2 separate regions of the Homo sapiens genome follow, and region 1 is linked to region 2. The links come from fine-mapping of genetic effects on gene expression. A gene starts in region 2. The other region holds a variant in brackets. All regions are shown on one strand. Distances are between the middles of the regions.

Region 1 (9,986 bases), 23 kb after region 2:
TCATTCTACTATGAGGACACATGCACATGTATGTTTATTGCAGCACTATTTACAATAGCAAAGACATGAAACCAACCCAAATGCCCATCAGTGATAGACTGGACAAAGAAAAGGTGGTACATATACACCATGGAATACTATGCAGCCATAAAAAAGAATGAGTTCATGTCCTTTGCGGGGCCATGGATGAAGCTGGAAGCCATTATCCTCAGCAAACTAACACAGGGACAGAAAAGCAAACACCACATGTTCTCACTCATAAGTGGGAGTTGCACAATGTGAACACATGGACGCAGGGAGGGGAACAACACACACCAGGGCCAGTCAAGGGGTGGGGGGGTGAGGGGAAGGAGAGCATTAGGACAAATAGCTAATGCATGCAGGGCTTAAAATCTAGATGATGGGTTGATAAGTGCAGCAAACCACCATGGCAAACATAACCTATAAAACAAACCTGCATATTCTGCACTTGTATCCCAGAACTTAAAGTAAAATAATAATAATAAAAAGATGTCACAGAGGACTCTGTTCCCTCCTCCTTCCAAAATGCTTCCAGCTTTACCTATGATCTTATTTTTTTTTGAAAGCCAGTTGTCCAGACTTGGTGGTTTTGCTTTTATTATCATTTGAGTTTTTCATGAGCTGCAGGGAGCAGGATTTGAGCCTTTTCTTGGTGTTTCTACTCCTCTATGTTCTGCTGCCTAAAGAATAAGTGTGTAGATTCAGAAGTAGTAATGACCAAACCTCTTGATAACAGCCATAGGGCTCATTTATTAAGCACCTGCTGCATACCAGGCTCCGTGCTTGCCTTCATCCTCCCTCACCTTACCAGGGTGGGTTTTTTATCCACTTTTGGCCCTTTGCTAGCTGGGGTCCCCTCAGACCCTGGTCCTATAAGGGACTCACACGAGGACCCCCTCAAGGCAATAAAGGGAGGATTAAAGAGCTGAGAGGTACAGAGGGAGCAGCCAGCATCAGGCTCCCAAGAAGCCCTCAATAAATGGCAACTGGTTACAGCCTCTCAGCCCTCTAGGGATGCCCAATGCTGCTGGTGTCTTGATGACTTGACTTCTTCAAGTGACACCCTTCTTACTGTGCCCATAAAATGTTTGCATGTGGTAGGGAGCAAGTTAATATTTACAAATGCAAGTATGCCTAATATGTGTTTCCTGATGACTGCTATAGGAGGTGCAGGGTAATAATTAGCAATTTGGAGACACGTTTAGGACTCATCTACAGGGAGAAACTACCCTCATTTTTCTGATTCTCCAGTTTGTGTGCTTTCAGGACCCAGGATAGATTTCTGCCTGTTGGGGTGGCCTAGATCTTTGTCTCTTGTAATGAATTAACGATGAAGAAATCACCCACCTTTGGCTTTCTTAGTACTCAGTGATCATTGTTTTTGGACCCAACCTGGCCCAACTGAAGACCTAGATTCCAAGAAACCTTCCCTCTTTTCAAATTTGGGACTTGGCACAGATTAGACCTGCTAACTAAAAAAAATAATGATTGATAGGAAGGCCAAAGGAAATAGCATTTATCTGGGAAATAAAGAGTTGCAATTTGGGAACCCTGAGTCATGGTAGTCCTGAACAGTGTCCCATAGGGCAATGCAGGAAAAGTTTTGTACTGGGGACTTTCACAAAATGTTGTTTTTGAAAACAGTTCATTGCCTGGCAGAAATGCTAAACTGCAAACTCGTATGAATTGGTTACTTAATTAGGACACTCCAGGATGAGAGAAATCAAAATCCCATGTACCTTGACTTCAGTCCATTGTTATCCAGGTCTACAGCAACATCCTGTGGCTTGACCTTTAGCAGGTGTGAGTGCAATGCTCTTACAAACGCTTGACTCCATGTTAAAGCTTTAGCCTTAACTACTTCATTTTCTTTCAAAAACTGTACTGGAATATTTGTGAAAAGAATGAAAAATATGGAATAAATTCATAAATACACAAAGAGAGAGAGCTCTAGGTATATGTCAAGTCTGGATTAAAGACAGATCTGTGTTTATTTTTATGAAGCATCTTCTGACTTTGATCCAAAGCAAAACTTCTTCCATGGCCCCATTTAATCCTTGTTGCACCCCTGGGAAGGGAAAATGCTGCTGTCCCACTTTGCAGATGAGGGGCTGCATGTTCCAGGCCACCCCTCTCATGGGCTGAGCAGCCTGGTTGCAGGTCTCATGGTGGCGCCACTTTGCCATTGTTCCCTACTTTGGCTTCTGTAAACACCCTCTCTGAGGTTGGTGAGCTCTCCTGGGGAAACAGGCTAGCACCAGTTAATACACAGAGGGAGAACAATCAGTAACTTTGTTCCTGTGCCCAGATTGGTGGAAGTCACCCTATGTGGAGAGGAGGACTTTGAACTCAGACCTGGACTTCCCTCTGGGACCTTTCCCTACACTGTCTGACCTGGGGCTGGTCGTCACCTCTTCCAACCTTTGCATCCTGCTCTGTAAAATGAGAATAAGAACACCATCCTCTCCACATTATTAGAAGGATTAAAATTAATGTATCTGAAGGTTCTTAACAGTGTCACACACTCATCGTTAGTGATTGTCATCTCAGTCATGTCTCCTGTTTATCGATGCCCCTTTTGTAGCCAAACCCTCTGCCCCCGTGGTATTGGGCCCTGCGGCGAGGACCACACCTGAGCATACAGTGAGTTTCACCTGTGAGTCCCATGGCTTCTCTCCCAGAGACATCACCCTGAAATGGTTCAAAAATGGGAATGAGCTCTCAGACTTCCAGACCAACGTGGACCCCACAGGACAGAGTGTGGCCTACAGCATCCGCAGCACAGCCAGGGTGGTACTGGACCCCTGGGACGTTCGCTCTCAGGTCATCTGCGAGGTGGCCCATGTCACCTTGCAGGGGGACCCTCTTCGTGGGACTGCCAACTTGTCTGAGGCCATCCGAGGTAGAGGACCCTCACACCCAGCCCAAGCCCACACCTGGCTGTCAAGCCCACTCCCCTCTCCCCAGGCTGTTGCTCCAGAGGTTGAATGGCCTGTAATCTAATCCCTGACTATACTGCCCGCCCGCCATGCACCTAGGTGTGCTGGTCACTTACTATCATTTTATTGGCAGCGGTCAGGGGACCAGCAATCACGTGCCAAGCTCTGCGCTAGAGAGTTTCATTTATCTCACCAAGAACAACTACTATTAGTGAGTACCTACTATGAGCCAAGTCCCTATGTGCTCGGCGATTTCACTGATTTTGCTACAGTTCTTACATTCCAACTGCATGCCAGGGGTTGTGCTTGTAGATTTCACTCATTCTTAGCCTAGTAGGAGCTACCAGTCCTTGAGCACCTACTGTGCACCAGGCACTGTGCTTGGTAATTTCATTCATATGCAAAGAGCGCCCTCAATGTCTTAGCATCTGCTGCCTGCCTAGCACTGTCCTGGTGATGCCCTCACCGTGGTAGTGGGAGTTAAGTTATGGAGCCCTCCCTGTGATCTGTCTGTGCCAGAAGATCAGAGCTTCTACCCTGTGCTGTTTCAGTTCCACCCACCTTGGAGGTTACTCAACAGCCCATGAGGGTGGGGAACCAGGTAAACGTCACCTGCCAGGTGAGGAAGTTCTACCCCCAGAGCCTACAGCTGACCTGGTCGGAGAATGGAAACGTGTGCCAGAGAGAAACAGCCTCGACCCTTACAGAGAACAAGGATGGTACCTACAACTGGACAAGCTGGTTCCTGGTGAACATATCTGACCAAAGGGATGATGTGGTCCTCACCTGCCAGGTGAAGCATGATGGGCAGCTGGCGGTCAGCAAACGCCTTGCCCTAGAGGTCACAGTCCACCAGAAGGACCAGAGCTCAGATGCTACCCCTGGTGAGGTTACTCAAAATTTTTAAATTTTGTCTTTTTCTCTCATTTTAAAAGTAATATCCACACTTGCTGTAAAATAAGCTAGAAGTCTATAAATACAAAGTAAAATTTTAATGTCAGCTCCATCCCCCCAAATCCCACATGCGAAGAGTCATGACTAGTAAGAATTTGATGCACAAGTTAATAGAACTTTTGACATAAATATATGTTTAATTTTTTTTTTTTTTGAGACGGAGTCTGGCTCTGTCGCCCAGACTGGAGTGCAGTGGCGCGATCTCTGCTCACCGCAAGCTCCGCCTCCCGGGTTCACGCCATTCTCCTGTCTCAGCCTCCCGAGTAGCTGGGACTACAGGCGCCCGCCACCACGCCCGACTAATTTTTTGTATTTTTAGTAGAGATGGGGTTTCACCGTGTTAGCCAGGATGGTCTCGATCTCCTGACCTCGTGATCCGCCCGCCTCAGCCTCCCAAAGTGCTGGGATTACAGGCGTGAGCCACCGCGCCTGGCGTACATAAATATATATTTAAGGAGCAAAGAGGCAGGCAGGGGGAACCATCTTCTCATAGAGTCCTTTGCCTTCCCTTATTCCTTGAGAGTTGTTGTGCCCGTTTCTCATCAGCCCACCCTTGTGCTCCCTACTTTTTCTAACCTCTGCTTTGTTTCTGTTTCATCCAAACTTTTCCATCC[T/A]CATTTATGACCTCATCCCAGTACACCCTGACATCTGCTGTGTATGTTTCAGAAAGACAAATGTAGTTTAAAACTGTACCAGGCCTGGCGGCTCACGCCTGTAATCCCAGCACTTTGGGAGGCCGAGGCGGGCGGATCACGAGGTCAGGAGATCGAGACCATCCTGGTTAACACGGTGAAACCCCATCTCTACTAAAAATACAAAAAAATGAGCCGGGCGTGGTGGCGGGCGCCTGTAGTCCCAGCTACTCGGGAGGCTGAGGCAGGAGAATGGTGTGAACCCAGGAGGCGGAGCTTGCAGTGAGCCGAGATCATGCCACTGCACTCCAGCCTGGGCGACAGAGCGAGACTCTGTCAAAAAAAAAAAAAAAAACTGTACCAGGCCTGCAGGTGACCATGAATGGTCACAGAACGGACCTCTTCTGTGTCCTGATTGTGATATTTGAGCAACAATAATCACAAACCCCTCTGCAAATTTACTAAGTGCAAATTTCCATTCATCCATGATCTCTGTTTTTGCTTCAACCACCCAGTAAGTCTGGAGTTTTAAAGAAGGGGAAACTAGGACTTGGGAAGTCATGGGGGATGTTGTTGAAGACCTCTTGCCTTTAGATCGGGTTATTGGTTCAAACTAATTAAAGTAAATCTGGGTCCCTGAGGACAAGGTCAGTATCAGCCTAAAATGCAAATTTGTGCTAGTTAGAGAAACAGTCCTCTTCTGCTGGGCATTGTCCCATGGACCTGAAGTTGGCCTGTGTTCCACTCCGTATGACCAAAATATGTCTTACTTCCCTCTTGTGTAATACCAGGAGGAGTCTCAACTCCAGGAGACTTTTCAAAGGCCCAGGTTCCTCCCACATACCTTATGGTGGTTAGTCTTATCTGCTGGGTCAGTGCTAGGTCACGGATTTTTCCATGTCCCTGTCTGCTGGAAGAGTAAATATAGGAAATGGAGGGCAAAAAATATCTTCTATAATCAGAGATGTATGGAAGGCGTGTGATCATGTCCACAGCTAACTCAGTCATGCATGTACACGCAGTTCCAAATGGAATCCATAGTTGGGTGATCTTATGACTAAAGACAGCATAACAAAACCAGTATCATTATTACAGTTAATACAATTTCAAATTTTTAATCACTAAATTTCATAAAATTATTAAAACAATTCCCTTATATCATCTAAAATGGAGTATACATTCAAATTTTCCTCAAATTTCTTTTATGACTATCTTTCTGTGCACTAAATTTGGTTTTAATTCATATTTAAATGCTTTGCAGTATTTTTCTTTGAAACACTTGGGCCTCAAGAATTTTTGGGGGTGTTTTAAAAGTATAAATTCAATTTCCTCAGTAGTTTAGGGTTACTCATATTATTCATTTCATATTGGGTGAGTTCCGGTAACTCGTGCCTTTTGAAGAATTTTGTGTCCATTTTATCTAAGTTGTCATATTTTTGTGTGTAGAGTTGTTCATAATATCTCCTTATTATCTTTTTGGTGTCTGAAGGGTTATGGCGATATCCCCTGTTTCAACCTCATATCTAAAATATGCCATTTCTGTTTTCTTCTTCATCAGCCTTGCTATAGTTTTTTTCCATTTTATTGGTCTTTTCAAAGGACCACTTTGTTTCCGTGAGTTTTTAAATTGTTTTTGTGTTTCCAGTTTATTCATTTTTTGCACTCTTCTTTTTATTAATTCCTGTCTCCTGCTTGCTTTGAGTTTATTTTGCTCTACTTTTTCTAGTTTCTTGAAGTGGTGATTTAATTGACTTGAGGCTTTTGCTCTTTTCTATGTCATTCCTTTGCCTCCGTTTATGGCTGGGGCTGGTGTTGGGGGATGGGTCCCAGGTGCCTGGCTGCAGGGCTGTCCCTCAGTCCTGAGGCCCCTAGTCAGTCTCCCTTCTTCCTCTCCCACCTTGGAATTTCTCCTATTCCTGATCCTTGTGATGTTTCTAGGGTTCATAGTTTTACTTCTCAGGGAGGTAAAACTGCACCATCAAGACTGGATTGCATTTGCTTTTCAGTTATTCATCCACCCACTGGCTTGGACCAGGACCAGGGCTGGCATTTTTGGGTGCTTTCGGTTTGCCAGATGTAGCATCTTTGCTCAGGTACTAAGGCTGGAAATGCATTTTAAGTTGTCTAGGCTGGCAGGTAAAATGCAAGATGCCTTGTGGTTACATAAGTGCTGCACCAGTGGCGTGGGAGCCGGGTAAGAGACTGTGCACTAGGGTTAGGTGAGTGTTCTGTTTTGACTCACGGTCATTTTGCAGTTTGGCTTTCTCTCTTCAAGTAATACTGAGAGCCAGGGTTGTGCAGAACTTACTTTGTTTTCATTTTTTATTTGATTTGGGGAGGATATTTTATACAGATAAGTAGCTATGCTGCTGCAATTGTACCCAGCAACTCTTAAGTCAACCGAAGATCTTTGAGTGCTTTGACCCAAATGTCCACTCCCACATCTCAGGGTCCCACAACTTCCCCATCAGGGCCCTACCCCAGCATAGCAACCGTTGAAGCTGAGATTCATCCTCCTCTGTGATTCTGCTACTCTTTTAATGATGTCCAGGGCCCAACCCTCTATTCTTTCTGCCCTCTAGCCACAAGAGATAAGAAAGTGCAGTGCTGCCAAGAAGTCCTCTTGCTTTCACGCTGAACCTTAACTCATAATCAATCACTCGTAGCTTCTCAGCATATTTCCCCAAAAAAAATATGCCCAGTGATAGCCATGGAACAAGTTAGTCCTTATAACTACCATTTCCCAATTTGTTTCAAAAGCCTGATGCCAAGGAATTTCCTGCCTGTGGTTACGCCATCCCAGCTTACTGCCAGTGAAAGTTTTATCAATTGCATCCCAGCCATGGTGCCCAGCCCCACTCACTGCCAGCCCTGAGGTCCTCATTGCGAGCTGATGAGTATTCAGGCTTCAAATTTATATTTTAGAGTAAGCTTTACAGACAACTTACCAAGGTCAGTTTCTCTGTAAGGCAGACTAGAGATGGATACAGGAATGCAGGAAGCATCCTGAAGAGCTGTAGGGTCAGCATGCCTCAGGAAATGGGGAGGCAGGACTGTAGGAGGAGCGAGGTGCTGAGCTACAGTGCAGGTAGAACAAAGACCCAGCTGCTCCTGCGGAGGATCCCAAGGGCTGAGAGCGTCATGTAGTGTTTTTTAATTGAGGAGAGAAGCGTGGCCTTCCTATTTTCAATTCAGCCAATCTTTCTTGTGGGCTGTCCCCTAGAAGGAGGAGTGAACTTGGAATTGGGCAGTGCAGCTTTCCTCAAGGGAGAAGAAGTCCCAGAGAGCCACCCAGCTGAGAACTGCCGGCCTCCAACACCCCAGCAGCCACAGATGCTGAGTTCTCCATTTCTTCCTTAAGGACCCACCAGCACCATTTTATTTATTTAAAATATACTGTAATATCTTTAATGGCCCAAACTGCTCGCGTTAAAAATGTTGATTTTAAAAGCCTGAACTGCTCATGTTAAAAATGCAGCGTCCAAACATGTGCTTCCCCGTAACTGAGTGTGCCCAACTAACAGAAAGATTTCAGATGACACCTGCACTGGGGTGGAGGTGGCCTAGGTGACATCTGAGGCCCTCCCAAGCATGAGACCCATTTCCGTGACTCACCAGGATGTTTTCTAGCCGGAAGGTTTCATTATGTCCAGTGTTCCATGGCTCCTCCAAGTTCTGAGAACACGGAGTCCTCCCCTTACTTCTGGGGCTAAGCAGGGAACCTGCAACTCTCATTGTGAAGCCATCCTCAAGCCACCTGCCTACCCTTTTATAGTCATTAAAATGTCCCTAGGAATTTGGACTTGTTTTGTTCCAAAGGACATGGTCTCAGGGATCAACCTAAGGAACACTAGTGATGAGCTTCTTTAGGTTTGAATGCAAGTAACCTTGTGACCCTCCCTAAAATCCATGGGCCTCAGTTTCCCTAGCAGAATGGAATGACAATCCCTGCTCCCATAGGCTTGTGAGGGTCAAGTGAGGAACCCCGTTGCCACATGTATGAATACCTGAGTACACACCCCCTCCACCTCTTCCCTCCAGGAGAATAAGCTGGCAACCTGGGACAGGATGAGTGAGAATGGGGAGCCTCTTTCTGTGGCTTCTGCCTTGTGCTGGAGTGAAGATAGCCTGGGCAGGATGCAGGTTCAAAGGTGGGGCATAGATGGGCCCAGGCAGCCTCAGATGGGGTAAGTGGAGGCCCCTACAATGGCCTCCCAAGTGGTCTCTCTCATAGCCCCTCGTCTTCCCTGATTTCCAGGCCCGGCATCATCCCTTACTGCGCTGCTCCTCATAGCTGTCCTCCTGGGCCCCATCTACGTCCCCTGGAAGCAGAAGACCTGACTGTAAGTACAAGGAAGGGAGGACAGACCAAGGGCTGTCTCAGAAGGGCAAGGCCAACAGGAAGGCCCAGCCCACATGCCATGCAGCACCAGGGTCCGTGGAGTTAAGCTCCCTCCGCACCCTCGGAAGTCTTGGGGAACCCTTTAAAAGGCTCCCAACCCACAGAAATTATGTGGGTGGTGTACAATGTGGGATGCTTGAAATGTGTTCAAAGATGTCCACAGTGCCCTAGGAGTTTCATGGAGGCAGTGATGAGTGGGTGGTCCCTTGCAGGCTATCTGTAGATTATTTGAATGCTGGGACTCCATGGGGTCAGAGAAATCCACATTGTAAACTAATGTTGAGAAACCCAAATGGGAAGCCCTGAAGGCTGTTTGTGCTCTGACCCTCTGTGTGTCTGAGTGGAAGGAATATTGGAAAGGGCATCAGGACTTGGCAGGATGGCTGAGCAGGCAGAGTTCTATCAGGACTGCCTGTCCACCAGTGACAGGTATCCCAGGAGACCAGCCCCGAGAACATAACAGACTCTCAGGAAACATGTCTTGAAAGATGAGCAGATGACTAAGTGTGGATGTGTTTTCCTACAGCTCCTTCCTTCCTCCCCTGCCACGTGGGACCCTCATCTCTGCTGCCTCCTTCCTTTCCTGAGAGGCTCAGCTTGAGAGAATGAGCCAGTGAGAAGCTTCTCTAGACTTGGCTCCAAACATCTCCCCTCCCAAGACATCTGCCTGCCCACAGGCTCCTGTTGCTCCTTCACACAGACCTGGATGCCCCAGAGCAAGGTCTTCATTCATGGTCCTGAGCAGGTGCCATGGGATTGGGCTCTGGGCACTGACTTAACGGCACCTCCCTAGAAGGCGAGAAACATGCCAAATCTAAACACACCAGGACTCCCATCCATCGCCTTGAGACTGACCGTAAACCACAGACGCTCTCCAGGTTCTCAAGAGTTATCCTGCCTTCCAGATTCCTGCCTATCCCAACTCCCCAGCCTTGTTGAGGTTCTCTATTGCCTCTTGAATACAAATGCACTCCCAAAGTGGTTTTAAGAAAATAAAAAGATTATCCTTCCTCTTTGTCTAAGGGTCCTACTCCTCAC
Region 2 (9,986 bases):
CTCCTCGAGTTTGTGTCTAAGACTGGCCCACACTGAGCCTCAAGAAATTCTTCAATTACAGTGCAGGCTTTCCTTCCCCGGCACTGGTTCCCACAGAGGTTTTGGCTTCAGGAAGTTGTGATTCTCTATATTACCCTGCCCAACTCCTCAATTCTGGGGACAGTGGTTTGCCCTGTGACCTCGTTTTTCTGACAGATCTAAGAAGAAATGTCACTTTTGATTTGCTCAGCTGGTTCCTTGGTGTTGACTTAAGGGACTTTTTGCAGGGGTTGTGCAGGGGACTGGGTTTCATCCCAGAAAGCTGCTACAGCCACAAGCCCTCAAATGTGCCACATCTGGAATTATGGTCTCTGAAATTGCAAGCTCAGTCCTTAGCTACAGAGCCCTCTTGGTCTGGGCTGTCAATGAGGAAGGGTCATGGGACCCCTGGCATGAGATGAGTGCCTCTGAAACAGAGAGCAGGTTCTGGGGCAGTGGACCTCTCTCCAGTACTGGCTAAATCTACCCAGGCCTGGGAACCCCAAGCACAGACATCCACAACTTCCCAGAGATGGCAACTGTGTCCACTTCCTCTTTCACAATGGAGGATTGTCCCAGTCTCATGGCCCTTTCTCCCTACAGCTACCTCACTCCTCAGACAACATAGCAGATAAGCAGATGCCCTCCTTTCCTGCAGAGTAGAGTCTGGATTCTCTCCATGAGACAGTCTGACAGGGCAGGCAATGTCCATCCCTGTCTCCCAGCCCATCTGGACAGCCCCTGCCACTTCCTCTGCTACCAGGACTCACAGGTGAGTGAGTGCAGCCTGCTCTACATGAGTGTATTTCTACATGGTGTCTCCTCACCCTCTCAGCCCATGTTACCTGCTCCTATTGATTTACATTTGGGAGCATTTTCTTCTCTCCCATCCCAGCATGAGACAAGATTTGGAACAGCTTTTCCATGAGCATTTGAGTAGACCCTTACTGGGGTCATATTGATTCCCCCAGACGTCATGCCTATAGCATGCCCCTGGTGCTGGTAATGACTCCATGATTCTAGGGCTGGGCACATGACCTCAGCTCATCATCGTCGTACTCCACCTCCACCAGCCACTGGCCAAGGTTGTCACACAGCATCATAAATTCTTGAGGGCAGAGGATCTGTTTTTTAAAATTGTTGCTATTACCAAAACACTACCTAATAACGATAATATCTAACTACTATCTATAATGATAATGGTAATACTGAATATATAACTTTTGGAGGACATGGTCAGATAGTATTAAGTAATTTGCATATATTAGTTCATTTAATTCTCATCACAAACTTATGAAGATGGTATGATTATTCTCTCCGTTGTACACTTGGGGAAACTCAGGAAACAGGGAAGTTAATAGTGACCCCAGGATCACACAGCTGGGACCCATTAGAGCTGGATTTCAGACCAGGAAGTTTTGATTCTTAAGCCCACAGTCTTACATCTTTAGTCTTCTGGAGCATCCACTGGCTCCCAGTTTCTCATGTGTCCCAAAGTCGTCCCTGGTTATCTGCACCTGCTGTGATGAGTCAGGGTGAAATATGGCAGATAAAGGAGAATTTTGGCTCATGGACTCCCAGGTTCCTGGTCCTCTCAAACATTCAGATTTTATCTATGCTTCCCCAAGTCACCTAAATTTAAATTTCAATTCTCCACGTGATTTCCACAAAAATTGTAAGCATCTGTGTACTTAGTTGATCTTTACTGAAGGATTGAAGTTCACAGGAAGGCACTTGCTGCTCTAAGCACAGATTCTGCCATCTTCCTGACACTATACTATGCATTTTTGAGTCATATACGCCCAATTCTTATTTTTGGAGACATAATACTTTATGACTCACACCTCTCAAAGTAATGTAGTAATGTGGATAGGTAAAAATAGAGCAATAGGAAAAGATATACCACAATATTGTGGTATATTTTTACCTATCCACATTACTTTGTTTGGGTGTGTCTCTGTGCTGTACCACAGGAAATTTCCCCTACATAATCACCCAGCTTACTAACTTACTATTATACTTATTTATGTATAGTCAGCTAGTCAACCTATTAAGTTTTTTTAAAAAATTTCAGCACTGATTATGTTTTCATTTCCAAAGTCTGTGTTTTGGTATTTTTTCAAGATGGTTGTTGTTACCTCATGCCCGCCTATTTCTGTTTCATATTATTACATGCCTGATGTTGGTTTATGAATTTACTTCTCTTTTGTTTTCCTTATAAGATCATTAAGTATACTAACTTTAAAGAACTTTACACATTTTGTTTTTTCATATTTGCTCAGGTGTGAAGTTCTTTTGATTGCTATTTGTTTTTGAGTTATTGTTTTTCTTGAATTTGTTAGCTGCAGTGCTGTTCCTCAAATCTTTGGTGATTCTTGCTTGCACTTCCGTCTTCCCAGGAATAATTCCCCATGTGATCATGGGTTGTCAGGGCCTCGTGGAGCATGGCACCTGCCCCAGCCTCACTATGAGGGCTGCTCCTAATTGAGGCTATAGCTTCTTCTCTGCTTTCTTCCTGAGGGATGTCTCTCCCTTCCTGCAAGAGGTATCATAGTACAACCATTAAAAGTGAAGGCTGTGGAGTGTGGCAGCCTATGTTCCAGTTCTAAAAGCCGGGTGATCTTGAGCAAATTCATTACTCTCCATGTGCCTCGGGTTTTCTCACCTGTGAAAGGAGGTTAATGGTTGAGCTTACCTCATGGGGTCAGAGCAATGATTTAATGACATTACCAATAGAAAAATGCTTGGCACCATATCTGGAGCACAGGAAACTCTCAATAAATGATAGCTGTTATAATTCCTTCATGTCATATAGAAGCCAATTGCTTGTATTCAAGTGTAATTAGACATTGATTCATATATTCTTTTCATTTTGTGTTTTCACTACTGTGGGTGTGGAGAAGGAGGGGAAGATTTCACCCTGTGTACATCTGCCACATTAAAACAGGACTTTCAATTAAAACATGATAACATTTACAATTTGATTTGACAATTATTCATGACAGATTAAGAACCTAAAACCCACATGTGAGATGAAGGATTCTGGACAGGTCTTTCTTAGTCATAGATGCTGGAAGAGAAATCATTTCTTTTAACAAGGTGGCTTTTCTAAGGCACAACGGTGGCAGAGAACCAGTGGACTCTTCCTGTACACAGAAAATAATTATAGCCATGTTTTTTTGCTTATAATTAATTATGAGTCAAGCATTCAGTATGGCTTATATTATTCCTACCATAGCTCTACAAGGTGCATATTCTAACATTTATTTACATACAATCAAACCAAGGCTCAGAGAAGTAGTGTCTTTTTGAAAATCACACAGCTGGAAATTGTAAGAGGAGGAATTAATCTATGGTTGAACAAGGAGCGGGATTTAGAGAATCCAGAGGGAGAAACTGATTTCAGGGTGGCAGCGAGAGTCCAAATACACTATATAAGCTGGGTCTCAGGAGGCCTGGGTTGCTGGGAGAAAGCCACTGGTGGGCAACTCAGCATGCAGGAGGGATCCATTCAAAAGCAACATTTGAGTTCCCGCACTTCACCTGGCACCGTGAGTATCAATAATGACCTACTGGGTTTCAGGCATGATATGCTCATTACCTCTTTAATCGTCACTAAAACACTGCACAAAAAGACTTACTATTCCCAGTTTAGGAGATTGAAACTGAGCATAGGAGGGCCCAGCGACTTCCCCAACTCCTTGGCACACACTCTTGGCAGGAGCATGGATTTTTCCTCTTTCCTCATTTCCCATCCGAACTCAGTGATGAATGAAATAGGTGCTCTGTGTGTAGAAGAAAGGGTATTGAAATTGATGCGACGGCCCCAGGAACCTGCCCACCATAATCTTCCCTCATGATAACCCTATCCCCTTTCCATAACCCACAATCCCCACCTCACTCCACAAAGCAGTTGCTTATTACCTCAAACCCAGTTTCTCTCCTGGAAGGAGTCAAGAAATAATTCCTTCTGCTGGGTGCAGGCACATGAAAGTGCTAAGGTCCACAAGAGACTGAATTTGGGCTAAGTGTTGCCAATTATAGCAATTTGGAATAGAAAATCATTTCAGGAGAAGATCTGGTTCCTCTCCAGTGTTGAGCAGGTCCTGTGAACTCTTCTCCTACGTCCAGCGGAGTGGCATTTGGTTGAGGCTGGTGCAGAACAAGACCACAAGCCAACCACATCCTAGGGTCTTGAAATAAAGACTTTAGAAAACAATACCTAACAACAGATCTTTCTTGACTTAAAAGCCTCAAATGGCAAATCACCAAGAAGACCTGAAAATGGGTTTGGGGACACGAGGAGGGAGCACAGGTCCCAGGCAGGCAGGAAGCATTATTTCTGCTAACCCTGTCTGATTATCCTGAAAATGGAGCACGATTAACTCCTTGCTTTGTAGCTGCCTACTGTGCCTGATTTGTAAGTCACAATCTAGAAGCAGGTTACTGTTGCATTCCATCATAGCCACTTCCTCTTGAATTGAGGGAGGCAGGGCTTGTCTTCTGTCTTCAGAGCAGGGCCTGACATCTCCCCAGAACAGACGTTTGAACAGAGCAGGCTTCTGAGGTCTCCAAAATGCCTGTCCCAGCCTCCTGGCCCCATCCTCCTGGTCCTTTCCTGCTTCTGACTCTACTGCTGGGACTTACAGGTGAGCATTGCATTGGGCTAGAACCCTTTCTCCCTGCTTCCTGGACCTAGCCTTGCCCCTGGACTTGCAGCAATTTCAGATAAGCACAAGCACTGCCAAGGAAGGTCAAGGACTGGACATTGTCCAAGAGCAGAAGATCAGGGAGCTGAGCACTTTCTCTGTGGATCTGCAGCTGGCTACCAGAGGCATCAAACCTTGTGAGGCTTCTGCCACCATCACAATTAGTTACATTTTTATAATATTTTATTTGACAAACACAGAAGAATCATTATTAAATCCTTACCTGTCTTGAGTCCTCCTACCCATTTTTGTGTGCCCTCCTCCTCTTTAAGAAGTTCCACATTTCATGCTTACAGCGTCCTATATTCCTTTCTTAGGGCTTCCACAACAAAGCACCACAGACTCAGTAACTAAAACAATAGACATTTACTTTCTTTCTTTCAGTTCTGGAGGCTGAATTGCAAAATCAAGATGCCAGCAGGGTTAGTTTCTACTGAGGTCTTTCTCCTTGGCTTGTAGAAGGCCATCTCCTCCATGTGTCTTGACACATGGTCTTCCTCTGTGTGTGTCTGTATTCTCATTTTCTCTTATGAGAACATCAGCCATATTGGATTAAGGCTCCCCGCCAGTGACCTCATTTAACTAAATTGCTTCACCCATTTATGCCTAGTGCTCCGTTATTGGATCACTAAGCTTGCGGGAGTTATTTATATCCTACTGCTCAAGGGCATCGCCAAGGTCTGATTTTTCAAATTAAAAAAAAATTGCAACCTCGGGCATAAATGGGTTAAAGACCTTGTCTCCAAATATGGTCAAATTCTAAGGCGCTGGGGATTGGGGCTTCAACCCATTCGTTTTGGGGGCACATTCAGCCCATAACAGGCACCACCATCTCCCTTGGTCATCTTGACTTTCCTCTGGAGAATTTATTTTCCCTTCCCCCAGGCAGACAGGATTGGGAGGTCTTTCCTGGTGCCACCTGAGAGAGCCCTGTTCACAGCTCCCAGACAGGCTGCCTGTCTTCACCCCTTTTTCAGACCATGCAGCTGACCCCCGGTCACAGGGCTGGGCACAATAGCCTCTCAGTTGCCCACTGGGCCCTGCTGTGATGTCATCTCACAGGTCTTAGAGGGCAAGGTCTCACTTTTCAAATTATTTTTTTTACACATACACTGTACCCAAATGACAGCAGTAATAGTTCAGCAATTGCTCTCTTCCTGTAAGGCAGATGCACTTCTTAGCATTTTGTGTGTATTAAGTCAACTAATCCTCACAGCATCCCTGTGTGGAAGCTATAACTCTTGTGCTCTATTTGCAAATGGGGAGTGAGGCAGAGGCAGGAACCTGTTCATTGTCCCCTACTTCAGTCCATGGAGCAGTTGGGATCAAGTCCAGGTTGACCAGTTCCAGAGTTTATCACCCTTTTAACCATGTTATGCTATGTGTAGAAATATTAGAAAATGCAGGCAAGCAAACATTAGATTAATAATCACCCATCACACCAGTCAGAAACAATCAGAGGTAAAACACTAGTGTATGTATGTTTTCCCAAAATGTTAAAAATGTGTTGGATGGTTTCTATGTGCCAAATATTTTACTGAGATTTTTAAATTTGTCATAATTGTAATTAATGCACAAAACAACCTTATATACTAACATGATAAGCCAAACTTTTATATATATTTGTGAATGTGTATATATACACATTATATACACATATATATGCACATGTGCCTATGCATGTACATGTACATGCACAGATGAGATTTCATTTTTAATCATTGGTTCTCTTTCTATTTTCAGTGAAATTTTTAACAAAATAAATATTTTATTTTATTTTTATTTGACAAAAGTATGTATACTTATGTACAACATATTAAGAAATATGCATACATTGTGGAATGACTAATTTGAACTAATAAACATATGCATTACCTTACATATTTATCATTTTTTATTGTGAGAACTCGTAAACTCTGCTCTCTCAGCAGTTTTCAAGAATACAATTCATATTATTAAGTATAAACACCACATTGTACAATAGATATCTTGAACTTATTTCTCTTATTTAAATTGAAATTTTGTATCCTTTGACTAATATCTCCCCAACTACACCCCCTCTCTAGCCCCCGATAAACACCATTCTACTTTCTACTTCTATGAGCTCAACTTTTTAGATTCTTCATACGTGAAATCATACAGTGTTTGTCTTTCCGTGCCTGGCTTATTTCACTTAGCAGAATGTCCTCCAGGTTCATCCATGTTGTTGCAAATGACAGGGTTTCCCTTTTTGTAAGGCTGATTAGAATTTCATTGTGCATATATGCTACATTTTCTTTCTCCATTTATCTGCTGATAGACACCTAGGTTGATTCCATATCTTGGCTTTTGTAAATAATGCTGCAATGGACATGGGAGTGCAGATATATGTGTGACATGCTGATGTCATTTCCTTTGGATATATGCCAGTAGTGAGATTACCAGATCAGATAAGAGTTATATTTTTAATTTCTTGAGGAACCTGCATACTGTTTTCACTAATGGCTCTACTAATTTATATTCCCACCAACTGTCTGCAAGGGTTCCCTTTTCTCCACATCTTCTCCAATACTAAATTTCCTCTTTTTGATAATAGCCATTCTTAAAGGTGTGAGATGATAGCCCACTGCGGTTTTAATTTGCATTTATCTCATGAATAGTAAGGTTGGATTTTTTTTTATACGCTGACTTGCCATCTTAATGTCTTCTTCTGAGAAATGTCTATTCGGATCTTTGGCCCATATTTTAATAGGGTTGTTTTCTTATGGTTGAGTTGTTTGACTTCCTTATATATTTTGTATACTGACTCCTTATCAGATGTATGGTTTGCAAATGTTTTCTTCCATTCTATAGGTTGTCTCTTCACTCTGTTGATTGTTTCCTTGGCTGGGTAGAAGCTTTTTTAGTTTGTTGTTAATGCCTTTTGTCTATTTTTGCTTTTGTTGCCTGTGCTTTGGGGCTCAAATCCAAAAATGTATTGCCAAGACCAATGTCATGAAACTTTTCTTCTAGTTCTTGTACAGTTTCAGATCTTACATTTAAATCTTTAATCCATTTTGAGTTGATTTTTGTATGAGGCATGAGAAGAAGGCCTAATTTCATTCCCCTACACATGGATATCCAACTTTCCCAGCACCACTTTTTGAAGAGACAGACCTTTCACCATTGTGTTTTCTTCACACTTTTGTCAATAGTCAATTGAGTGTGAATGTGTGAGTTTATTGCTGGGCTCTCTGCTCTGATCCATTGGTCTATATATCTCTTTTTATGCCAGTGCCATGCCATTTTGATTACTTTGACACTGTAGTCAATGTTGAAATTAGGCAGTGTGGTGCTTCCATCTTTGTTCTTTTTTTTTTTTTTTTTAGATGCAGTCTTGCTCTGTCGCCAGTCTGGAGTGCAGTGGTGTGATCTCAGCTCACTGCAATCTCCACCTCCCGGGTTCAAGTGATTCCCCTGCCTCAGCCTCCCAAGTAGCTGGGACTACAGGTGTGCACCACCATGCCTGGCTAATTTTTTGTATTTTCAGTAGAGACAAGGTTTTACCATGTTGGCCAAGACGGTCTCGATTGCCTAACCTCGTGATCTGCTCGCTTCGGCCTCCCAAAGTGCTGGGATTACAGGCATGAGCCACCATGCCCGGCCCCATCTTTGTTCTTTTTGCTCAAGATTGCCTTGATGTAGCATATCACATTTGGAGATTTATGAATGTTATACCATCCTTGCATTCCTGAGATAAATCTCATGTGACCATGCTGAAACACACACAGAATTTTAAAGACTTTCTTTACTGTAAACTTCAACTCATTTTTTCAGTCTATATGAAATGCACATTGAAGAGATGTGTGGTTTTCCCTATTGCCCAGCCACTCTCCCTCCTTCCTACTTCTCTAATCTTACCACTGAAAGTCCTCCAATCTGTTAATAGAAGCAACAGATAAGCAAACTTCTCTCTTGGTAAAATGCATTTTCCCTCAAAGCAGAATTTCTGTGCATTTTTATCCTGAAATTCCCTCTTCCATGAAGGTAGAAATGAGGAAAAAAATGTGGGGATACAGGTGACACAGGTCTGCCTATATTACCTATAACTATAGTTATATTTATATCCATATCCATACCCTTATCCTTATCCTTGTCATCTAATGTCCACTGAAGCCTCCAAGCCTCAGAAATCTACTGAGCAATAACTTTACAATTTTTGAACGTTCACCATGTGGCAGACACTGTTGAAAATGCCTTACCTCTTTTACTTCATGTGATCATTATATACAAGGTAGATATTCTTGTCACCTTTCCTAACAGATAAGAAAACAGAAGCACAAAGTGCTCCAGGCTCACTCATTGGTAACTGGTAGAGCTACGATTTGAACTCAGGCACTCTGACTCTAGAGGTCACAGGTTTCACCATTACTCAAACACTTCCGGTCTTGATTCTATTCCATGAGATTTCTGCAGCTGCTGCTCTTGGGTGTGGAGTGGGCAATGTGGTGTGAAGGGAGATTGTGGTTTTCTTCTCTGGGCTCTTCTACTTTCTGTATGTTTGCAAACTGATTTTTTTTCACTAAGTCCTCTACATGGGAAACTCATTTTCTGTCAAATTCCACAGGAGCAAACCACCTAAAATAGAAGATTTCAGTCTTCGAGGGAAATGTCCCACTGAGCAATTCAAACATTACACACATATCTATTGGATACCTACTATGTGCCAGGATCTGACATAAAAACATGGGGTACTTTGGTAGAATAAAAGAGAAAAAGTAATTGCCCTTTTGTTGCTTACATCCACTGCAGAGAAAGACAGTAATCAATACACATGATAAATAGGTGAATGAAAAAATTAATTTTTGACAATGATAAGTGCAATAAAAATAAAGTATGAGTAGGTGAATGTTATCATCTTGTGAAAGTATTCATATATCCTTTTTATTGTTTTCATCGTAAATAGATGTACAAATTTACCAGATGCTTTTCTGCATCAAAATAGATGATCATGTGTTTTTTCTATTTATTCTATAAATAAATATTTGTAGAATACCATATTGTTTGTCTGTCATTTGTATATTGAAACATACTCATATTCCAGGAATAAATACCACTTGTTCATGGTTTATAATCCTTCTTACATGCTGTTCAATTCAGTTAGCTAGTATTTGGTTGAGGATTGTTGCATCAACAAATCCAGTAGTAATAAGGCCACTGTCAACAGAAAGGTGTGCAGCTGCACCTGACAAATTTTAATTTTGTGTTTCAGTAGAAGTTTAAGTTCCAGTGGGACCCATT

What was found. PIP is the estimated chance that this variant, and not a neighbour inherited with it, causes the effect.
Region 1: its variant is fine-mapped to the expression of SIRPG in whole blood (TOPMed, PIP above 0.99).

Annotation. Positions count from the first base shown.
Region 1 is chr20:1,629,125-1,639,110 of GRCh38, reverse strand. SIRPG (signal regulatory protein gamma) reads left to right here. Exons shown (of 6, transcript NM_018556.4): 3 at 2,606-2,923; 4 at 3,512-3,844; 5 at 8,805-8,889; 6 at 9,475-9,959. The coding sequence ends at 8,887. SIRPG-AS1 (SIRPG antisense RNA 1) reads right to left here and starts at 5,603. Exons shown (of 3, transcript NR_110090.1): 1 at 5,391-5,603; 2 at 1,761-1,905. RefSeq lists an enhancer at 3,196-4,021. The variant T/A (reference allele first, on the strand shown) is at 4,529.
Region 2 is chr20:1,652,323-1,662,308 of GRCh38, reverse strand. SIRPG (signal regulatory protein gamma) reads left to right here and starts at 4,530. Exons shown (of 6, transcript NM_018556.4): 1 at 4,530-4,667. The coding sequence starts at 4,595.